Homo sapiens: one gene and its partners. The protein of the gene in region 3 interacts with the protein of the main gene of each other region in a pairwise test. Each region holds a gene or a part of one and is shown on either strand. Other genes may lie near its edges.

What was found. Proteins that work in one complex are often made in the same cells at the same time.
Region 1: the proteins of NELFA (region 3) and PRR22 interact in a two-hybrid assay, tested with the Homo sapiens proteins (2 studies listed by BioGRID).
Region 2: the proteins of NELFA (region 3) and CDK3 interact in binary tests that used the Homo sapiens proteins (3 or more experiments, as listed by UniProt).

The regions. Positions count from the first base shown.
Region 1 is NC_000019.10:5,782,460-5,789,170, reverse strand, and holds PRR22 (proline-rich protein 22), read left to right. Parts: upstream 1-4,424; 5' UTR 4,425-4,510; coding exon 4,511-4,640; intron 4,641-4,731; coding exon 4,732-4,794; intron 4,795-5,117; coding exon 5,118-6,193; 3' UTR 6,194-6,211; downstream 6,212-6,711. Other genes in the region: DUS3L (tRNA-dihydrouridine(47) synthase [NAD(P)(+)]-like), read left to right, coding at 773-814, 995-1,147, 1,466-1,582, 1,810-1,875, 2,000-2,110, 2,326-2,422, 2,629-2,704, 3,380-3,568 and 2 more.
Region 2 is NC_000017.11:75,996,617-76,003,854, reverse strand, and holds the start of CDK3 (cyclin-dependent kinase 3), read right to left. Parts: upstream 3,001-7,238; 5' UTR 2,888-3,000; exon of another isoform or gene 2,444-2,887; 5' UTR 2,430-2,443; coding exon 2,314-2,429; intron 1,982-2,313; coding exon 1,904-1,981; intron 1,834-1,903; coding exon 1,713-1,833; intron 1,608-1,712; coding exon 1,437-1,607; intron 1,345-1,436; coding exon 1,243-1,344; intron 661-1,242; coding exon 457-660; intron 1-456. Other genes in the region: CST complex subunit TEN1, read right to left, coding at 3,593-3,714. UniProt on the Homo sapiens protein: Serine/threonine-protein kinase that plays a critical role in the control of the eukaryotic cell cycle; involved in G0-G1 and G1-S cell cycle transitions. Interacts with CCNC/cyclin-C during interphase. Phosphorylates histone H1, ATF1, RB1 and CABLES1.
Region 3 is NC_000004.12:2,005,904-2,013,396, forward strand, and holds the start of NELFA (negative elongation factor A), read right to left. Parts: upstream 3,072-7,493; 5' UTR 3,057-3,071; coding exon 2,847-3,056; intron 2,144-2,846; coding exon of another isoform or gene 2,060-2,143; intron 1-2,059. Other genes in the region: uncharacterized protein LOC124900839, read right to left, coding at 3,103-3,858. UniProt on the Homo sapiens protein: Essential component of the NELF complex, a complex that negatively regulates the elongation of transcription by RNA polymerase II.

The DNA of each region.
Region 1 (6,711 bases), on a different chromosome or scaffold from region 3:
CATCTGGTGTGCGTCTATTAAATACCAGCTGTGTCCACGTTCCTGTTCTAGCTGCCTGGGAGTCAGAGGCTGTGTGCCTTGAGGGAGCTCCTGGCTGAGTCTCCCTCTCTGTGCTCTGTCCTGGGCCCAGCCCTCAGGAGGTGGGGACAGAAAGAGCTGGACAGGGCCGGGGGCGGTGGCTCACGCCTGTAATCCCAGCACTTTGGGAGGCTGAGGCAGGCAGATCATTTGAAGTCGGGAGTTCAAAACCAGCCTAGCCATCATGGTGAAACCCTATCTCTACTAAAAATACAAAAATTAGCCGGGCCTGGTGGCGGGCACCTGTAATTCCAGCCACTCAGGAGGCTGAGGCAGGAGAATCACTTGAACCCAGGAGGCGGATGTTGCAGTGAGCCAAGATTGTGCCACCGCACTCCAGCCTGGGCAACAGAGCAAGACTCTATCTCAAAAAAAAAAAAAAAAAAAGAGCTGGACACACTCTAAGTCTCAGAGGGTCAGGGTCGGGCAGCGGGGGACAAATGTGGGAGGCTTCCTGGAAGAGGGGGCATTGGGACTGGGTTTGGATGGTTAAGTAGAAGCTCTCCAGTGGAGGAGACGATGAGGAAAGGAACATTCCTGATGAAGGGATTGATTGGCACATGCAGAGGCCCAGCAAAGGAGCCAGACCATTTGGGCCAAGTGTGTCCTAGACTGTGGGTAGAAGGGAGGCTCCAGGGCCTCAGCAGCTGGGGTGGAGGCCAAGCTCCACTTGTGTGTATTTTTTTCCCTCCAGCTGGACATCCGTGGCAAACTTTACCTGGCCCCCCTCACCACGGTAGGACCTGGGTCAGGTGGCTGGTCGGGTGGCAGGGTGGCAGTGTGGTCATTCCAACAGGGCTTAGTGTCTGTCCCCACCTACTGGATTGTGGGGCTGGGGCGCATATTCAGGGTTCTGCTGTGTGTGTGTGTGTGTGCGCGTGCAAGAGCATGTGTGTCTGTCCTGCTCCCCCCGCAGTGTGGGAACCTGCCCTTCCGACGGATCTGCAAGCGCTTCGGGGCGGATGTGACATGTGGAGAGATGGCCGTCTGCACCAACCTGCTGCAGGGCCAGATGTCCGAGTGGGCCCTACTCAAACGCCACCAGTGTGAGGACATCTTTGGCGTCCAGGTCAGTGCCCACCCCGAGGGAGGGAGAGTGGAGGGGCCCTCGGCCGTCCTGTCTCAGAGCCAGGTTCCAGGTCTGCCCTGGTTGCCTCCCTGACCCCCTGGCCTCAGCTGTGGAGTGGGGGTGATGCCCTGATCCACCTCTGGGGGCTGATGGCCGTGGCCGGGGACCGGTGCCTCGCAGACAGACCTTGGCTCCTTCCGGGGAGGCCCCGAGAGAGGAGGCCACTGGCTCAGGGCCCCCCAGTGGGGAGGGAACGGCCAAGTGGGGACAGTTCGGACTCTCCCCTCACCCTCCTGTTCTGCCACTACCCACCTACAGCTGGAGGGCGCCTTCCCCGACACCATGACCAAGTGTGCCGAGCTGCTGAGCCGCACCGTGGAGGTGGACTTTGTGGACATCAACGTCGGCTGCCCCATCGACCTCGTGTACAAGAAGGTAGCGGCCCTGGACGTGTGCCTCGGTTTCCCCATCTGGGCAGGGAGGCACTGACCCAGCCGGCGATGTCTCGGTGGAGGGTCAGGGGTTTGGGCTCAAGTGTGGCCCTGGAGTCCCTGCCTTTCCTGCAGGTCGGCGTCTCCTGGTGGGGGCCTCCGGGCAGCAGGGGTGAGGGGTCTTGGGTCAGCCCACGTCCTGCCCTCCCTCCACCCGCCTGTCTCTTCCAGGGTGGGGGCTGTGCCCTCATGAATCGCTCCACCAAGTTCCAGCAGATCGTCCGTGGCATGAACCAGGTACGGCCAGCCACATCCTCGCACTGGCTCCCAAACAACTCCCCCGGGCCCTGTCTCCCACCACCTCCCACCGTCTCCCACCACCTCCCACCATCTCCCACCACCTCCCACCACCGTCCTGTAGGTGCTGGATGTGCCGCTGACTGTGAAGATCCGCACAGGCGTCCAGGAGCGTGTGAACCTGGCGCACCGCCTGCTGCCCGAGCTGCGGGACTGGGGCGTGGCACTCGTCACGGTGGGTCTTGGGACGCCTCGGGCATTGGGGCCTCGCGGTCGACCCCGCGTCCCTTCCTAATGGCTCCTCTCCTCCCATCCCTCCCTCTTCACCTCCACACCTCCCTCTGTCTCCGCCTGTGTCTCTCTCTGTCTCTCTCAGCCTGGCTCTCTTGGTCTCTTCCTCTCTGCGTCTCACTCTCTGCCTCCTACCCTGCGTGGCGGCTTCTCCCCCAGCTCCACGGCCGCTCTCGGGAGCAGCGCTACACCAAGCTAGCCGACTGGCAGTACATCGAGGAGTGCGTGCAGGCCGCCAGCCCCATGCCCCTGTTCGGTGGGTGTTCCGGGAAGCCACCTCCCTCTCCCCTACCACCCTTGGTCACTCACACCTCTGGGCTGTTCGCCTTCCCACTTGGGACCCCCTCGTACCACCCTGATGGGAGCCACTGGGTCAGCCAAAACTCCTGAAGGGCTGGTGAGCAGAACTCCAGGGTCCCACCTGCCCATGTCTCCCTGAGACCCCAGCCTCTGTCTCCTCAGGAAATGGGGACATCTTGTCATTTGAGGATGCCAACCGCGCCATGCAGACTGGTGTCACCGGGATCATGATTGCCCGGTAAGTGCCCAGGGATGTTAGAGATCCAGCTTCATGCACAGCAGCAGTGCCCTGAACCCAACACGCCGTCACCCACCCCTGTTCTGTGGTGGGCTGTTGGTCCCAAGATGGGAGGAGCAGAGAGCGATGTCAGGAGTTGCAGCTGCGTTGCGGCAGAGGGGACTGGAAATTGCTGCTGCTGTGGGATCTGATGATTGTGGGTTGAAAGTCCTGGGCTTTGGCCAGGTGTGTGGCTCACGCCTGTAATCCCAGCACTTTGGGAGGCCAAGGCACGCCGATCATTTGAGGTCGGAGGTTCAAGACTAGCCTGACCAACATGGTGAAACATCTCTATTAAAAATACAAAAATTAGCCAGGTGTAGTGGTACACGCCTGTAATCCCAACTACTAGGGAGGCTGAGGCAGGACAATTGCCTGAACCTGGGAGACGGAGGTTGAACAGTGAGCCGAGATCTTACCACTGCACCCCAGCCTGGGCGACAGAGCCAGACTCCGTCTCAGAAAAAACAAAAGAAAGTCCTGTGCTTTGAAGGTTGTGTGCATGCAGCTGGGAGGCTTACTAGGCTTGTAGGTTTTGTGGTCTGGGCTCCGGCTCAGGCCAGGCCATGGAAGCAGAGGCCACACGATCCCAGGCAGGCTGGTGGCTGGGCCCACTGATCGTCACCCGTCCCACAGTGGCGCCCTGCTCAAGCCGTGGCTCTTCACGGAGATCAAGGAGCAGCGGCACTGGGACATCTCGTCGTCCGAGCGCCTGGACATCCTGCGGGACTTCACCAACTACGGCCTGGAGCACTGGGGCTCGGACACGCAGGGCGTGGAGAAGACCCGGCGCTTTCTGCTCGAGTGGCTGTCCTTCCTGTGCCGGTGGGCACCGGGGCTGGCTGGGGTGGGCGGCGCGTGGGCCGCGGCTGGTTAGAGCTGACTCAAGCCTGTCCTGCCCGCCCACCCGCCGCAGGTACGTGCCCGTGGGGCTGCTGGAGCGGCTCCCACAGAGGATCAACGAGCGGCCGCCCTACTACCTGGGCCGCGACTACCTGGAGACGCTGATGGCCAGCCAGAAGGCAGCCGACTGGATCCGCATCAGGTGCCTGGGTGGGCTGGAGTTGGGGAGCTGCAGTCGGGGGCCCGGGGTCACGGAGGGTACTTTGCAGGTCCTGGGCCTGACCTCGCTTTCCACCTGCTCTCCCACAGCGAGATGCTCCTTGGGCCAGTGCCCCCCAGCTTCGCCTTCTTGCCGAAGCACAAGGCCAACGCGTACAAGTAGCCTCAGGCTTTCCCAGGGGCACCCTGGGGCGAGGAGAGTACAATAAATTTTATTCTTTTAAAATCCAGGCCTTTCTGTGACCCTGAAGCAGCCCCTCCTCGGCCCCCACCTTCCCCAAACCTCTTAGCTGCCTCCATGGGCCCTGCCCCAAGCTGGGTGCTGCTGGTGCCCAGAGAGGCCTTGACCCCCAAGAAGGTAGCGGGTTGAGGACCCGGGGGGCCTCAGCCTGTGTGGGTGTGGATCAGGGCAGCCTGCCTGGAGGAGGCGGCCTCAAAGCTGTTAGGGGGGTGTTGCTGGAAGAGGCAAAGGCCTGGCCCAGAATCCTCCCTCCCATGGTGATGACCATGTCTGCCAACGTCTGCCCCTGCTTGCCCCCAACACCCAGAACCCCAACCAGTGGGCGCGCTGCAGGCTGGAACCCGCTGCCCCGAGTAACCAGGCAAACAGAACCCCACCAGGTTCTCAGCCTGTTCTCCGGTTGGGCCACTTGCACTCCCACTGCCGCCCTCCTGGCCTGTCTGGACCGGGCCCCCCGCTGCCCCATGCAGCACCCCAAACCGTTCTGTGCCCCTGCAGCTCCCCAGGAAGGTTTCAGCCCGCAGAGTCTGGAGGGGGCTGAGGTGCTGGGCAACCAGCCTGCTCCCACCTGTGCCGAGCCTCCTCCCGCTATGGGTACGATCGGGTGGGTGGGAGCACCTGCTGGAGAGGGTTCAGGGGCCCACCCGCCTAAGGGCCCTACCCACCTGGGCACCTTTGTCCACAGGCTCCTTGAACCTGTATCATCCCCCAGACCCAGAGAAAGAGGTGTTTCCAGCCCCACCAGCAGGTACCGGCCTCCCCTGAGCCCTTGACGAGGCTGGGAGTGGGTTTGAGTGTGCAGGCCCATCTTGCCCCTGCCCCGTCCCTAAGTGGGAGCCTGAAGGCATGGCCTCTGCTCCCCATGCTTCACACAGGTCCCCCAGATGAGCCCCAAAGACAAGCTCTGTGTCATCCATCACCCAGCCAGGGCCCCAAAGCAATATCTATGTCGTCCCCCAAAGGGGCCCCCCAATGGCAAGGTTCTTGTGGCATCTCCCAAACAGGCCCCCAGGCTTGGGCTGGGCCCCTCAGGCAGCAGCTGCTCTCAGGGCACCCGCCTGCCGCCCACAGGTTTCCAGATGGCCCCATGCGGGTGCTTCTTCGACCCCCGCATCTATCGGATCGAGTGGACCACCCCCGACCTGGGCCAGTCAGCCCTGTATAAGCTGGCAGCAAGCAGCGGGGGGCCAGCGGGGGTCCCCTCCGCCCCAGGCAGCTACCTCCTGGAGCCTCAGCCCTACCTCAAGGCCCCGGGGCTGCCTCCATACCCCCACTACCAGCAGGCACCCGGGGGGCCCCAGTTTCTCTTGCCCTACTTCCCGCCTGAGGGCCCCGGGCCAGAGGCTCTGGGTTTTGTGGGGGACGCAGGGCCCGCCGCCTTCGTGGAGCTGCCCCTACCGCCCCTAGAGGAAGGCCCGGCCCCGCTGCCACCCCCACCCCCCAAGGAGAACAAGCCGCCCCCTGTACTCATCACGCTGCCTGCAGAGCCCACACTGCCCCCAGACGCCTACAGCCACCTCCAGGGTCACCTCGGCCACTTCCCTGGGCCCGAACCCCTGGCCTTCCCCGTCAAGGAGCTGCAGGGCAGTGGGGCCCGACCTGGGGTGCCCCTGTACCCACCGGGCCTCAGCGAGCTCAAGGTGGCCGAGGTCAAGGAGGGGGCCCTGCTGGGAGCAGGCAAGGCCAAGGCCCCCAAGACGGCCAGAGCTTTGGCACTGCCTGACAAGGTTCTGCTGGAGGACGCCATGAAGCTCTTCGACTGCCTGCCAGGCGCCTCTGAGCCTGAGGGTACCCTGTGCGAGGTCCCTGGGCCGGCCCTGCCTGACAGCAGTGGTGGGAACTCAGCCGATGACATCCGCTCGCTGTGCCTGCCCGAGGAGCTGCTGTCCTTTGACTACAGCGTGCCTGAGATCCTGGACACCGTGTCCAACGTTGACTACTTCTTCAACTTCAAGGCGCTCGACGAGGAGCAGCCGCCCCACCCGGGGCCCCCTGCCACCAACACCCCGGCCCCCATTCTGTCTGGCAAGAGAAAGGCCTCGACGGCCAAGAAGGGAAAGCCGGGAAGGAAGGCCAGGCAGCCGGCAGGCCCAGCCAGCGCCACTCCCCCGGGGCCCAGGGAGGACCTGGGAGCCACCCCGCATTAAAGCACATTTGACCTTTCAGCTCCATGTCCACGTGGGGGCCTTGGGGATGGGGAGGGGGCTGGAGATGCACGCCTGGCCCCTCACCCCATCATCCCGCGGACTGGCAAGGCAGCGCCCCCGGCCTCACAGTGAGGCCTCTTAGCAGGGGAGCCCCGGAATCACAGGACACCCTAAACTCCTTGAGTCCCAGCCCTGGAACATCAGACTCCTCTGGCAGAGGCAGGGGCCTCCTGGGGCACGAGGGAGCTGACCCCCAGACTCAACGCGTTCTAAGGGTTTTCACCCCTTTGTTTGGTGGGGGAAAGCAAGGCTGCCCAGAGCAGCAGGAACTTCCTTGGAGACACACAGCCATCAGGGCAGGGCTTGAGGAGCATCCTCCAGATCCCCACCCAGCTGCCTCCTGTCCCCAGGAAGCCACAGCCACTGCAGGCAGGGCGGGAAGGGCCACGCTCTTGTTCAGACAGACAGGTGGGTGCAGGGGCTTCACCTGATGGTCTGAGGGTGGGGGCTGGGGCAGG
Region 2 (7,238 bases), on a different chromosome or scaffold from region 3:
AGGAGAATGACTTGAACCCAGGAGGCAGAAGTTGCAGTGAGCTGAGATCACGCCATTGCACTCCAGCCCGGGCAACAAGAGCAAAACTCCATCTCAAAAAAAAGAAAAGAAAAGAAGGTATGGCCCCAGCCTGGGGAGGCATACAGCTTAGATGGAGCAGTAATGTCCACAAAGTAGAATAACCAAACACACAAGACAACTAGGGAAAAAGGGCGTGTAGCACAGCATAAAGACAGAGCTAACTCAATGAGCGCCACTTTCACAGGGAAGATAAATACTGCACTTATCCTGGGGGAGGCTTCCGGGTTGAACAATCAGTATACCCAAGCCAGTTGTGTACAAAGGTCAGGAAAGAGACCCTGGCCTTGGACTCAGAAAGTGCCAGGGTTATGTAAGAGGCTGGCTGATGAGGGGAAACTGTAGTCGGAGCAGCAGCTGGAGCCCACATGCACCTACCATGAGCAGGTCCCTGCCCTCTGGCTCCAGATTGGGCACAATCTCTTCCAGTCCCTTCCTGGTCCACTTAGGGAAGCTGCCCTTATAGTCAGGCAGCTGGGTGACCCCGGGCCATGTGTCTTCGCTGGGTGTCCCCAGCATACGAAAGATACGAAAGAGCTGGTCAATCTCAGAGTCACCAGGAAACAGGGCTTTTCGAGTCACCTGAAATGGGGAAGAAGAGAAGGTGTGGGGTCCGCCACTTTGTTATACAGAATCCAATACCAGATAAGTGGCCAGACCCAGGGAGAGGCCTGTCAAGATATCTTTTCCATGACTGTGCAAAGAATTCTGGCCTCTTTTGGAATAAAGCTACCTTCCTCAGTCCTTTAGCCAGTACCAAACACCTTTTTTTAAAAAATAGAGACGGAGTCTTGCTCTGTCACCCAGGCTAGAGTGCAGTCGTGCGATCACAGCTCACTGCAGCCTCAACCACAGGCTCAAGCAATCCTCCTGCCTCAACCTCCCAAGTAGCTGGGACTACAAGCATGCACCACCACACCCAGCTAATTTTTGTAGTTTTTTAAGAGCTGGGGATTTGTTACGTTGCCCAGGCTGGTCTCAAACTCCTGGGCTCAAGCCATCCTCCCATCTCAGCCTCCCAAAGTGCTGGGATTACGGGCGTGAGCCATGTCCAGCCCCAAACACTCTTTAATCCGCCTCGAATGGGAGCATCAGTGGACCCCACCCAACCCCAGTAGGACCCTGCCTGTGGCACCCTGTGGCCATGTGTGCCCCTCTCTCTACCATCTCTGCAAAGATGCAACCAATGCTCCAGATATCCACAGCTGTGGTATAGAACTTGCTGCCCAAGAGAATCTCGGGGGCGCGATACCACAGTGTCACCACCTGCAGGGCAAAGAAACAGTATCACTCAGGGTGGCTGAGTGCATGGGTGACACTCCTCCTGCTGCCCCTCTCTCCTCTTTGTCTCACAATACCTCATGGGTGTAGGTGCGCAGGGGCACCCCGAAGGCGCGAGCCAGGCCGAAGTCAGCCAGCTTGATGGCACCCAACTCATTGATGAGCAGGTTCTGGGGCTTCAGGTCTCGGTGGATGACCCGATGTGAGTGGCAGAAACTCACCCCCTGCAGCAGCTGGAAGAGGTAGCTCTGGAGAAACGAGCGCGAGGTGCAGCCAGCTGAGCGGAGGTGCTGCGTGGACAGGGATGGCAGGGATGGGGTGTCACCTCTCCTTCCCTGCCCTTCCTTCCCTACCTTGATGAGGTGCAGGGGGAGCTCTGAGCCTGGGGTGGAGTCCATGTACTTCTTCAGGTCCTGGCTGAGGAACTCAAACACCAGATAGAGCTTCCTCTCGTTGTGCACCACGTCCAGCAGTCTGACAGGGAGATGGCAGTCAGGATGCTACCTTCGCCATCCCAGCTTCCCCACCTCAATCCCCAACTCACCGGACGATGTTGGGGTGCTTCAGTTCCTTGAGCAGCGAGATCTCCCTGATGGCAGTGCTTGGGACCCCCTCCATCTCCCTGCAAGAAACAAGGGCACAGCCGTGGGCAGAGACTTGGGCCAAGAAGGGCACTTCCAGCCAGGGGGATCGGCTTCTCCTTAACCCCACAGAATGACCAGGGCCCCGGCAATGGAGACCTGTGCTCCTTGGCACGTCATCCACCAAACTCCACAGTCAGGGCCCCGGCAAAGGCTGGTCAGAAGGCAGTGAACTGGGGAGAGGACAGGTAAGGGCTGCTGGGCAGCACCCAGAGGAGTTAAACGTGGACTCCAGGAAAGAGGGAACGGATCAGGGAGCGCCCAGGTTGTGATGGCCCAGGGTGGGTAACTCAGGGGCCGTCCCAGCACTCACAAATCCAGTCTGATCTTCTTCAGGGCCACCAGCTGCCCTGTCTCCCTGTTCTTGGCCTTGTACACCACCCCATAGGTGCCCTCTCCGATCTTCTCTACCTTCTGGAACATATCCATGGCCACAGAGCTGCCTGGGAAACAGAAGGCACCGGGCAATTTGCACCCCACGCCCAGCGCTCCCGTTGCTCCTCCAGCTTCCATGTGGCGCCCTGCCCAGCCCAGCCCAGCCCAGACTGCCCAGCTCCCAAGGCCCACGGCCTAGCCACCCCAACCCCAGCTCATCCTGCCTGGGAACCTGGCTGGGGGTCGGAAACCGCCCCTCACCCAGCCCAGCCCGGACCCCAAGGGGGTCAGGGGGCCCCCTTCACCCAGCCCAGTTCAGCCAGGACCCCCAGGCTTCTCGCCCATGCCCGGCCTCGGAGGGCAGGGCCCACACTCTCCCACCCAGCCCCCTGCCCATCCCAGCCAGAACCCCCAGGAAGTCAGAGACCACCCCTCGCCCAGCCCAGCCCAACATGGACCCCCAGGCCTCTCACTTGTGCCGGGCCTTAGAGGGCAAGACCACCCTTTCCCACCTGGGTCACTGCCCAGCCCAGCCAGTCCCAGGCTCTGGGTACACATGGCGGCCAGGAAGGGCTGCCCAGGGGCCAGGGCCACTGGGGGCAGAGGTCAGGGGTCAGGAGGGTCTTAAAGCCACAGTCCTGTCTTAGGCTGCACGGTCAGGGCCCAGGGCCTCAGCCCGGCCCGTGTGACGACGCTCAGCCTCCTCTGAAGGCAGAGCCTGGCCAGGGGCAGACCCCTGCATCCTGGGCCCCCCACCCCAGCCCCTGGGCCCCTGGTGCCCTACCCTGAGGCCCCAGGCCCAGAATTCACCAGAAGCCCTGAGAGGCTGCAGCCCACAGCCTGGGTTGCAGCTCCCCCTCCTGGCCCCCGCCGGCGCTGCACCACGAGCACACTTCAAGAGCACGCCCCCTGGGCCTTTATTCACCAGGACCTTCTGGAACCCTCCATGGCCCCACACCAAGCACGGCCCCGGCGCCCAAGCTCGGCCACCTGCAGTCTCCTGGGGTGGGGCTGTCGGATTTATGGCATGCTTTCTGGGTTCTCATTGCTGAGCCAATCCCAAAGTAGGGGAAGGGGCTGGATTCATCACCCGCCCCTCGGCTTTCGAGCTCCAGACAAGGCCGTCGCTGGGGAGGCGTCTGTGCTCTCCCGGGCTCCTGCAGCTCCAGAGGGTTCGGGCTCTGAAGCAGGTGAGGGTGTTGCTAGGCTGCTGTTTCCTACTGGCTGCCGCCCCGCTCCTGCTTGTACAGTCTCTGCTCCCGGATGGCTTGTTCCAACAAGGGCAGGTTCATCCCCTCCACACAGGTCAGCACGCGCGCCTTCACCACGGAGCCTCTGTCTGCAAGACAAACACCAGGGCACGAACGGCGACTGAGCGGCGTGTCAACAACGTCCTCCAAGGTGCATTCCAGCTGTTCCCTCCACAGCTCAGTCCTGGGTTTTGGCAGCAAGTGATGTGGACAATAACAGCATATGGGGCAAAGGCAACTGAGTATTTGGGCCTAGAACCGTGGGCCTGTCATGCACAGTCGGCCCGTGTCTGGAACTTAGCAGGTGGTCAGAAAACCCCTCTGGACTGAGGGAAAGGCCCCCTTGGCACCTTGGGACACAATGTCATCAGGAACCGGGGAAAAGAGACACCCATATTTTAAAAATCCAAGAGACTGAGCTCCCGGTAAGTTTGGCTTTATAGGAGCAGGTCATCCCACCCTGGACGAGGGGGGCTTCTAGCAGATGCGGTGGTGACCTGATACATAATGGAAAGGTTTGCCACTATTCAGGTGGCACCAAACAGGAAAGACATCTCCGAGAGACTTTTTAAAAATTTTCTTTCTTTTGACAGGTGAACTGGCTCACACCTGTAATCTCAGCACTTTGGGAGGCCAAGGCATGTGGAACACTTGAGGTCAGGAGTTCAAGACCAGCCTGGCCAACATGATGAAACCCCATCTCTACTAAAAATACAAAAATTAGCCGCGTGTAGTGGTGCATGCCTGTAATCCCAGCTACTTGGAAGGCTGAGGCAGGAGAATTGCTTGAACCCAGGAGGTGGAGGTTGCAGTGAGCCAAGATCACGCCACTGCACTCCAGCCTGGGCAACAGAGCAAGACTCCACCTAAAAAAAAAAATTTTTTTTTTGAGACAGGGTGTTGCTCTGTCACTTGGGCTGGAATGCAGTGGCTCAATCATGGCTCAATGTAGCCTCCACCTCCCAGGCTCAGGTGATCATCTCAGCTTCCTGAGGAGCTGGGACTACAGGGACGCACCACCACACCCAGCTAATTTTTGTATTTCTTGTAGAGATGGGGTCTCGCCATGTTGCCCAGGCTGGTTTCAAACTCCTGGGGTCAAGTGATCTGCCCGCCTCGGCCTCCCAACATGCATGGATTATAGGCGTGAGCCACTGTGCATTGCTGACATTTTTTTTTTCTTTCTTTTTTCCCCAGTCATAGCTTGCAAGAGAAAAAAAAAAGTTAAAAAAATTTTTTGCACTCATGCTCTTTCTGCTCTCTGAGCACTTTAATAAATAGATTTCCGAGATGGGTGGATCACCTGAGGTCAGGAGTTCATGACCAGCTTGGCCAACACGGCAAAACCCCGTCTCTACTAAAAATACAAAAATTAGCCAGGTGTGGTAGCTGGCACCTGTAAACCCAGCTACTCGGGAGGCTGAGGCAGGAGAATCGCTTGAACCTGGGAGGCAGACGTTGCAGTGAGCCGAGATCAAGCCACTGCACTCCAGCCTGGGCAACAGAGTGAGACTCTGTCTCAAAATAAGTAAATAAATAGATTCAATGTTCTAGGCTATTACATTGTTTTCTTTTGACGCTGTTTGAGATAAAGGCTCTGCCTGCCCTTTCCTCTAGTCTAGGTCATTTATAGCACAGCCTGAGGGCAGAATTCAGGGTGTCATCCTGCCTAGCTGTCTATACAGGCTACCCTTAGGCAATGAACTCATTTGAAACATGAGGTTGCCTGTGTGTCTCAGCTTCTGTTAGCCCCAGTGCTGACACAGGTCAGAGAGGAATCGGGGCGTGGCGCGGTGGCTCCCAACACTGTAATCCCAACACTTTGGGAGGGCAAGACAAGCAGATCACTTGAGGCCAGGAGCTCAAGACCAGCCTGGCCAACAAGCGAAAACCCTGTCTCTACTAAAAATACAAAAGTTACCCAGGCCCGACTACTTGGGAGGCTGAGGCACGAGAATCACTTGAACCGGGGAGGTGGATGTCGCAGTGAGCCAAGATTGCGCCACTGCACTCCAGCCTGGGAAACAGAATGAGACTCTGTCTCAAAAAAAAAAAAAAAAGGAAAAAAAAAGGAAAAAGGCCAGGCGCAGTGGCTCACATCTGTAATCCCAGCACTCTGGGAGGCTGACGCAGGCGGATCACCTGAGGTCAGGAGCTGAAGACCAGCCTGGCCAACATGGTGAAACCCTGTCTCTACTAAAAAGACAAAAATTAGCTGGGTGTGGTGGCGGGCACCTGTAATCCCAGCTACTAGGGAGGCTGAGGCAGAATCGCTTGAACCCAGGAAGCAGAGGTTGCAGTAAGCAGAGATCGTGCCACTGCACTCCCAGCCTGGGTGACAGAGCGAGACTCCATCTCAGGAAAAAAAAAAAAAGATTAAGAACCTGGAGCAAAGAAGAAGGGCCTGGGTTATAAAAAGCAGTCAGAATGCAGTGGGGTGAGGCCTGGGAAGAGGAAGGGGTTATACGGAGCACAGATGTTCTTTTAGGAGGTTTGTCTGCAAAGGGAGGGAAGGTCATGGGCAGGTAGGTCAGACTCTAGTGTAGAAGATGACTTCTTGTCATTGAGACTATTATTTCCATATAGAGGAGGCTTGAACACCTTATATGTGGACAGGGAAGAACTGTGGTAACCCCTTAGGTAGGAGGGACCCCGCTTCCTCTTAGACTAGAGGAAGGAGCTAACGGTGGCCGTTTCAGTGTCTGATGGTCGGTGGCCGTTTCAGTGTCTGATGGTAGGAGGAAGAACGGCTGCCTGTGGCCTCGATTCTAGCTGGCTCATAAAGCAATAAGCCGGGAGGGACAGGGGAGGAGAGGAAGTGGGTTCTTGTGAGGCAGGGGAATTTCTGGACTAGCTGTGGTGGCGCCGGGGAGGGGGGTGTGGCCAGGACACAGGAAGGATTTCTAGGCAGAGCAGGGGAATGCCAGTGAGCCCCTGAAATCATTGAGCTCCAAATCCTTGGAGTTCTGTGATCTTTCTGCACTCAACAGTTGGCAGAACCAGGAGGGTGGAGGCTGGGGTCTTGGGGCAGGAGTGAAGCTGCCAGGAAAGTGGCTGAAATGGTAGTGAGGCCCAACGGGGAAGAGAGATGGGGGAGAAAGCCCGGGAGTCCTGAGTCCACAGGTCCTGATAGGGCAAGAGGGACGCAGCAGAAGTAGAAGGGAGAGTGGATGGCATGCAATTTCAGGAAAACAAGTCCAAGGTGCAGCAGCAGGCGTGGGAGGTGGAATTGGGGCAGAGGTGCACAGTGGTGGAACTGGTTGGCAGCAGGGAGACAGGGAGGGATGTGTGATGCTGACACACCCGAGGAGCCGGGGAAACTCCGGCCCTGCTCCAGACTCTGTGGGTGTGTGGTTTGGGGAGAAAGGTTTGGGCAAGTCCCAGAGCTGTAAGGATGCTCGAAGAGGGAGGTGCACAGGGGACACACAGGAAGGTTTCCCTCCCTCCCTTTCTCTTCTCTTTTCTCTTTCTTTTCTTTTCTTTCTTTTTCTTTCTTTCTCTCTCTCTTTTTTTTTTTTTTTTTGACAGGGTCTCACTCTGTCACCCAGGCTGCAGTACAGTGGTACAGTCTCAGCTCACTGCAATCTCTGCCTCCCTGGCTCAAGTGATCCTC
Region 3 (7,493 bases):
TATAAAGAGGACAGCACCCCAGAATGAACTGCAAGTTCAGCTCAGCCTTAAAATCCCAGCAGGCAGGCTCTACGTGTTTAAGAAGTAAGTATATAAGATACATGTGGAAGTGTGAAGGGACAAGAATAGCCATAGATGATCCCGGAGAAAGATACAGTGGGAGGGTTTGCTCCGTCCGCTAACAAGGCTTATAAATAAAGTGACAAGAACCGACTTAGTGGGTTATTAGCACATCGATATGTAAATGACCAAAAGAACAGAGCACAGCCCAGAAACACATCCACAGCAGAAGCTGCAGTGCAGATCAATGGAAAAGGACAGTCATTTCAATCAACGTTGGGTGCTGGACTAATTGCACATCCATGTGGAAAATTAGACTCCCTGCTTCACACAATCATCAATTCCACGCAGACTGAAGATTCAAGTGCGAAAGGTAAAACTGTACAGCTACGCCAAGATAACCCAGGGAGTGTTCCGGGCATGTCCCTCGGGGAGACACAATAGGCACCAATGATAGTGGGCGGATGAATACACCATCTATGTTAAAACTAGGAGCTTCTATTCATCCATGATTCCAGGAAAAGGGCTGGGCGCACAGATCACACCTGTAATCCCAACACTATGGGAGGCCAAGGCAGGAGGATCACTTGAGGCTAGGAGTTCAAGACCAGCCTGGGCAATACAGTAAGACCCCCATCTCCATACACATGCACAAAAATTAGCCAGGCGTGGTGGCAGCGCATCAGTCCCAGCTACTACAGAGGTTTAGGAGGGAGGACTGCTTAAGCCCAGGAGTTCAAGGTTAAAGTGAGCTATGATTATACCACTAGACTCTAGCCTGGGTGACAGAGTGAGACGCTGTCTCAAAAAAAAAAAAAAAAAAAAAAAAAAGGATTCCAGGAAGCTAAGTCAAAGTCAAAGGACAACTGGGAGATATTTGTAACTGAAAAAGGACTGATATCTAGCATTTATAATAAATAATAAAAAAGACACTCTTACAAAACAATGGGAAAAAAGAGAATTTAAAAGCAGATTTGAATATACAATTCTCAAAGCAGAAAACCAAACAGCAGGCCGAGTGCCATGGCTCACACCTGTAATCCCAGCCCTTCAGGAGGCTGAGGCAAGCAGATTGCTTGAGGTCAGGAGTTCAAGACCAGCCTGGGCAGCATGGTGAAACCCTGTAGTCCCAGCTACTCAGGAGGCTGAGATGGGAAGATCTGAGGTGAGGAGGTCAAGGCTGCAGTGAGTCACGATGGTGCCACTGCACTCCAGCCTGGTTGACAGCGCCAGACCCTGTCTCAAACAAAACACAAACACAAAAACAAAACACTCTGAAAAATAATTTGGCATGATCCTATGATCCTCACAATTCCACTCCTAGATGTTATACCCTAGAGAAATCCAAGATTCCAAACACCTGAACATATGACCGTAATGTAGTAACGGGATGATTTACAAGAGCACAAAAGCTAAGCGTGTCACTGTGGCAGAATGGATAAAGTGCCTCGTGCTCACAGACAGGAATACCACGCAGCAGTGAAAATTAAACTGCAGTCAGCTGCAACGTGGATGAAACTGTCACGGCGTCGACCAAAAAGACACATGCACGCCACACACAAAATACACTATGATACCATCACACTAACTCCAAATCCGGCAACCAAGCTGTGCCATTTAGGGGTGCATAAATAATTGCTCACACCGGGGAGATGGCACAGAAATGATTACCTTTCCAAAATGAGGAAGGGGAAAGGAAGAAGGCCGTGATTACCAGTGGGAGGCTTCCAAGGAACAGGCATGGTTCTACTTCTCCACCTGTGTAAGGATCACAGGAGTGGCTCGCGATGCTATTATTATTCGTTAAACTGAACAAAAATGCACTTTTCCATACATGTCATATCTCAATCAAAAGCAATTACAACCTATAATAGCTAATAATACATCAGTAGCCAGGAACGTTTAAACAACCATGGGGCTTCAATAGTCTGCAAAACTACTCGGTTTATTTCGCACGGAAAGCGATACAATATAAAGTTTAGGAAAAAAGAAAACAAACCTCACACACCCACTTATTGGAATGACGCAAAACGGCGTGTAGAAAAGAGTAAAACGGACACAGAGCGCTCCGGACGGCCGGGGTCTTTGCGAGGTGAGAACAAGAAAATCCAGTCAGCGGACACTGGAGCTACCGAGCCCAGGCCGCCCCTTCCTCACGCGGGGGTTTCTCTCGGGATCCCCGCCCTCGCCCAGGTCACCAGGGCTGCGTCCCCGACGGGAAACCCCGATGGGAGACCCCGCTGGGGCCGGCGCACCCCCGCTCCAAGAGTCGGTCGCTTCGGCACGGTGGGGGATTAGGGTGGTGAGGACCGAAGGCGGGGGAGGCGGGGGCGGGTGGGGATGAGTACCCGGGGGCCCAGGGAGGGGAGTGAGGACCTGGGGGTCGTAGCGAGAACCCGGGGCCCGGCGGGGAGGAGATTGAGGATCCCAGGGGAGGTGAAAACTTGGGTAGGGGTGAGGACGAAAAGTAGGGAGGTGAGGACCCTAGTGGGGGATTCCCAGGGGGCGAGGAGGGGCGGGGGGTCCTGAAGACCCACGGTGGGGATGAGAACCGAGGTGGGAGATGAGGATCGAGGCGGGGGATGAGGACCCAGGGGGAGGTGAGGACTGGAGGGAGGTATTCGGAGGAGCGAGGAGGGGGCGTGAGGGCGGGCCGGGGGGGTTAACAGTCTGAAGGGGGATGGGAAGGTTGGGGGAGGGAGCGAGGAGGGTCCGGAGTTGGGTGTGCGGGTCGGAGGTGGGAAGGTTGGGAATCTGGGGGCCGCGGGGCGCCACGCCTGCCTTACCTCGTCCACCGTGCGGCGCGGGAGGTGCAGCGTCCCGAGTAGCAACTTGAGCTTCACTGCCGACGAGAGGCCATGGAAGCAGAGACGGATGTTGTCGATGACCGCGGCCGTGAGCAGGGACGCGATGCTGGGCGGCGCCCACAGCTCGTCCGTGGCCCCCAGCTTGTTGTGCAGCCACAGGCCCGTGTCGCTCTCCCGCATGGACGCCATCTTGGGGGAAAGCGCGCGCCGCTGCCCCGGCATCTTATGAAGACACCTACGCGTCCCTCGCTAGGACCCCAACATGGCGGCGCCCGTCGGGCTGCGGGCCGCAGAGGCGGCGCAGGTGGCGCGGTCCCACGAGCGGGGCTTCCCGGGAGAGCGCTTCTGGGTGGCGACCGCGTCTCCGGGTAGCGGCCGCGTCTTCGGGAAGCTTTGTGGCAAAGCCGAGAGCCGGAAGGACGGGGTGCCGCTGAGCAAGGACTATCGGCTTCCGTAAAACATCATGGCGGCGCCCTCTGCTGGCTCTCGGGAAGACCGCAAAAAATGACGTCACGAGCAGGCGCGCGTATTCGCGTCTTGGGAGCCCGGGCTGCGGCCTGGCATTCGCAGTGCAGGTGTCAAGCGCCGCAGACTTGCTGCTCGCGCGGTGGGGCGGAGGCTCCCTGTGGCACCTGCCCCGCTGTCCGCTCTTCGCTTTTTCCCCGCTTGGGTCTCGGCGCGGACCGTGTGGACGCCCCGCCCCCGCGGGCCCAGCACCTGCACGGAGAGGAGCCGCGGCCCTGCGGAGCGAGCCTGCGGGATCCCGGTCGCAGCGCTGAGCTTCCGTCCCCCGCTGAGCCCGCTCTGCCCGTGGCGCGCCGCCGACGGGGCTGCGCTGAGCATGCGGGTCGGAGGGCGCTCGGGAGCTGTCCAGGGGCACTCGTGACCCCACAGTGCAGGGAGGCCCCGGCCCCCAGTCGGGCTGGAGCCGCCAGGCAGGAGCCAGTAGTGAACTTTTCAGTTTTAAAAGCTTGTCATTAGATACAAACATGAGTAAAAGTTAAACTTCATTTTATTAAATTCGTTTTACCCTTTTGTCTTTTTGACGAGGCCTTCCTATGTTGGCCAGGCTGGTCTCAAACTCCTGGGCTCAAGCGATCCGCCCGCCCGCCTCTGCCTCCCAGAGTGCTGGGGTTACAGGTCGGGGCCGCCTTGCTTGGCTTCTGTATTATATCTTTTTTTTAAAAGATCTTTTCCTTATTGTTCCACTGCCATGCTCCTGCCGCCGTTCACAGCTATTGCCACTGGGCGGTGGGAACGCCGGGAGAACAGGGCTCAGCCCAGCTGCTAGCAGTGCCCTGGCCCTGGCGGCTTGAACTTGGCAGTCCTGCGGAAGTCACACGGGGGAAACCCGCAAATGCTACAAATCAGTGCTGGAGCGGTGGTTTTGTTGATTGCTTAAACTGAAGAAAGTGATAGAGAAAATGTTGATGATAAAGATTAAACTTAAAACTGTCATGTCGACAACCGTTACATTGCAAATAGCACATAAAATTTAAGAGAATATTTTTTAAATGATTCAAAAGTGTCGAATTCAGCAAAGACAAGTTATTGACTAATGGGTGAAGTTGTGACATCAGTGGGGCTAGTGCTGAAAGAAGTTTAATGATTAGGCCGGTCACGGTGGCTCACGCCTGTAATCCCAGCACTTTGGGAGGCCAAGGCGGGCGGATCACCTGAGGTCGGGAGTTCGAGACCAGCCTGGCCAGCATGGAGAAACCTCGTCTCTACTAAAAATACAAAACTAGCCGGGCTTGGTGGCGCATGGCTTGCCTGTAAGCCCAGCTACTCGGGAGGCTGAGGCAGGAGAATGGCTTGAACCCGGGAGGCGGAGTCTGCGGTGAGCCGAGATTTTGCCATTGCACTCCAGCCTGGGCCACAAGAGCAAAACTCCCTCTCAAAAAAAAAAAAAAAAGTTTAATAATTATAATCTGAGGGTAAGAAATAGTTTAACAGTGGACGACATATCAAATTTAGTATGAGAAGAGTGAAAGTTACTTCAAGTTGTGAAATCATGATTGAACCGTAAACATTAGTTGGTTGAAATGAAAATTTTTGTTCACAGAAACCTGTGTGCAAACGTTTATAGCAGCTTTATTTATAATAGCCCCAAACTTGAAACAATCCGAATGATTCTGACCCCCAACTGTCTGTAGCTTTCTGTAGGATACGCAGCACTTTTCTGTATACAGTGCTTGATGCATCTTGAGTCTTCAGTTTTATGCAGGAAAAATCCAAGTTAACATCTGGCTTAACCAAGAAGACAAACCACTAGGAGGACTTAGTTACAGCATCAGAAAGCAATGGATTAATATTCAGAATGAAAAAAGGAATGCTTGTAAATCGACGAGAAAAAGACCGACAATAGACAAATGTGCAGAAGATAAGAATAGGCAATTCACAGCCTGGCCATCATAGTGAAACCCCGTTTCTACTAAAAATACGAAAACAGTGGGGCGTGGTGGTTCATGCCTGTCATCCCAGCTACTCAGGAGGCTGAGGCAGGAGAATCGCTTGAACCCAGGAGGCAGAGGTTGGAGGGAGCGGAAATCACACCACTGAACTCAGGCGTGGGCCACAGAGCGAGACTCTGTCTCAAAAAAAAAAAAAAAAAAAAAAGCAATTCGTAGGAGAAACCCAAATACCGGAGAAGCACATGGAGAGATGCTTAAATTCATCAGCAACCTGACAAACCCAAATTAAAATAACAAGATGCCTCATTACACCTATCAGATTGCAAAATTAGAAAGCCAAAGTTTTTTTCATTTTAAAACATGGTATCCAGTTGTTCCCATATTATTTGTCGAAATGACGATCCTTTCTGGACTTTTCTATCCTGACTTACTCATCTATCTTTATGCCAATACCAGACTGTCTTGGTTACTATAGCTTTCTAAAATAAGTGTTGAAATCAGGTAGTGTTAATTCTCTGACTTTTTTTTTTTTAAAGTTATTTGGGTTATTTTAGGTCCTCTGTATTTCCTTTTTTTTTTTTTTTTTTTTTTTTTTTTTTGAGGCAAGGTCTGGCTCTGTTGCCCAAGCTGGAGTGCAGTGATGCAATCTCAGCTTGCTTCAGCCTCTACCTCCTGCGTTCAAGTAATTCTCATGGCTCAGCCTTGCAAGTAGCTGGGAATACAGGCATGCACCACCAAACCTGGCTAATTTTTGTATTTTCAGTAGAGACGGGGTTTCACCCTGTTGGCCAGGCTGGTCTAGAACTCCTGACCGCAAGTGATCCACCCACCTCAGCCTTCCAAAGTGCTGGGATTACAGGTGAGCCACAGTGCCCAGCCTGCATTTCCATATAAATTTTAGAATCGTTTGTCAATTTCTACAAAAAAAAAAAAAGGCTTCTGGCATTTTGAGTGGAATTGTGTTGAATCTGTAGGTCAGTTGAGGGAGAACTGGTAACTTCTGTCTAGTGAACATAGTATTTCTCTCTGTTTATTTGGGTCTTTAAATTCTCTCAGCTAGGCTCATGGCTATGTAATCCCAGCACTTTGGGAGGCCGAGGAGGGTGGATTGCTTGAGCCCAGGAGTTGGAAACCAGCCTCAGTAACGTGGCGAAACCCCATCTCTACAACAAATATAAAAAGCTGGGCTGGTGGTGCGCCTGTAGTCCCAGCTACTTAGGAGGTTGAGGTGGGAGGATCACTTGAGCTCAGGAGTTCAAGACCAGCCTGAGCCACATGGTGGGACTCTGTCTCTAAAAAATTAAAAATAAATTAAAAAATAAATTTTCTCAGCCCCATTTTGTAGTGTTCAATGTAAGGGTCTTGCACATCTTTTCAGAATTGCCTCCAAGTATTGCATAACCTTGATGTGGTTGTAAAGGGTGTTGTTTAAAATTTTTAATTTATCAGTGTTTGTCGCCAGTATATAGAAATACAACAGATTTTTGTGTGTTGATTTTGTATCCTGCAGCCTGGCTAAACGCATTTATTTGTTCCAGTAGTTTTTTCATACATTGTATTAGTTTTCTGCAAAGACAATCATGCCATTTGTGAAGGCAGTTTTATCTTTTTTTCTAATTTATTTGCCTGACTCTGCAACATAAAGAGTCCTTATTTTGGCTGGGCATGGTGGCTCACATCTATAATCCCAGCACTTTGAGAGGCTGAGGCAGGCGGGTCACCTGAGGTCAGGAGTTCGAGACCAGCCTGGCCAACATGGTGAAACCCCATCTCTACTAAAAATACAAAAAATTAGCTGGGCGTGGTGGCAGGCGCTTGTAATTCCAGCTACCCAGGAGGCTGAGGCAGGAGAATCGCTTGAAACCAGGAGGCGGAGGTTGTAGTTAGCGGAGATCGTGCCATTGCACTCCAGCCTGGGCAACAAGAGGGAAACTCCATCTCAAAATCGAGACCAGCCTGGCCAACATGGTAAAACCCCGTCTCTACTAAAAATACAAAAATTAGCTGGACGTGGTGGCAGGCGCCTGTAATCCCAGCTACTTGGGAGGCTGAGGCAGGGGAATTGCTTGAACCCGGGAGGCGAAGGTTGCAGTGAGTTGAGATCGTGCCATTGCACTCCAGCCTGGGCGACCAAAGGGAAAAAAAAAGTCCTTATTTTTACTTTAAAGCAATAAATTTTACAACTTTACTGAATTTCTAAAAAAAAACCCTA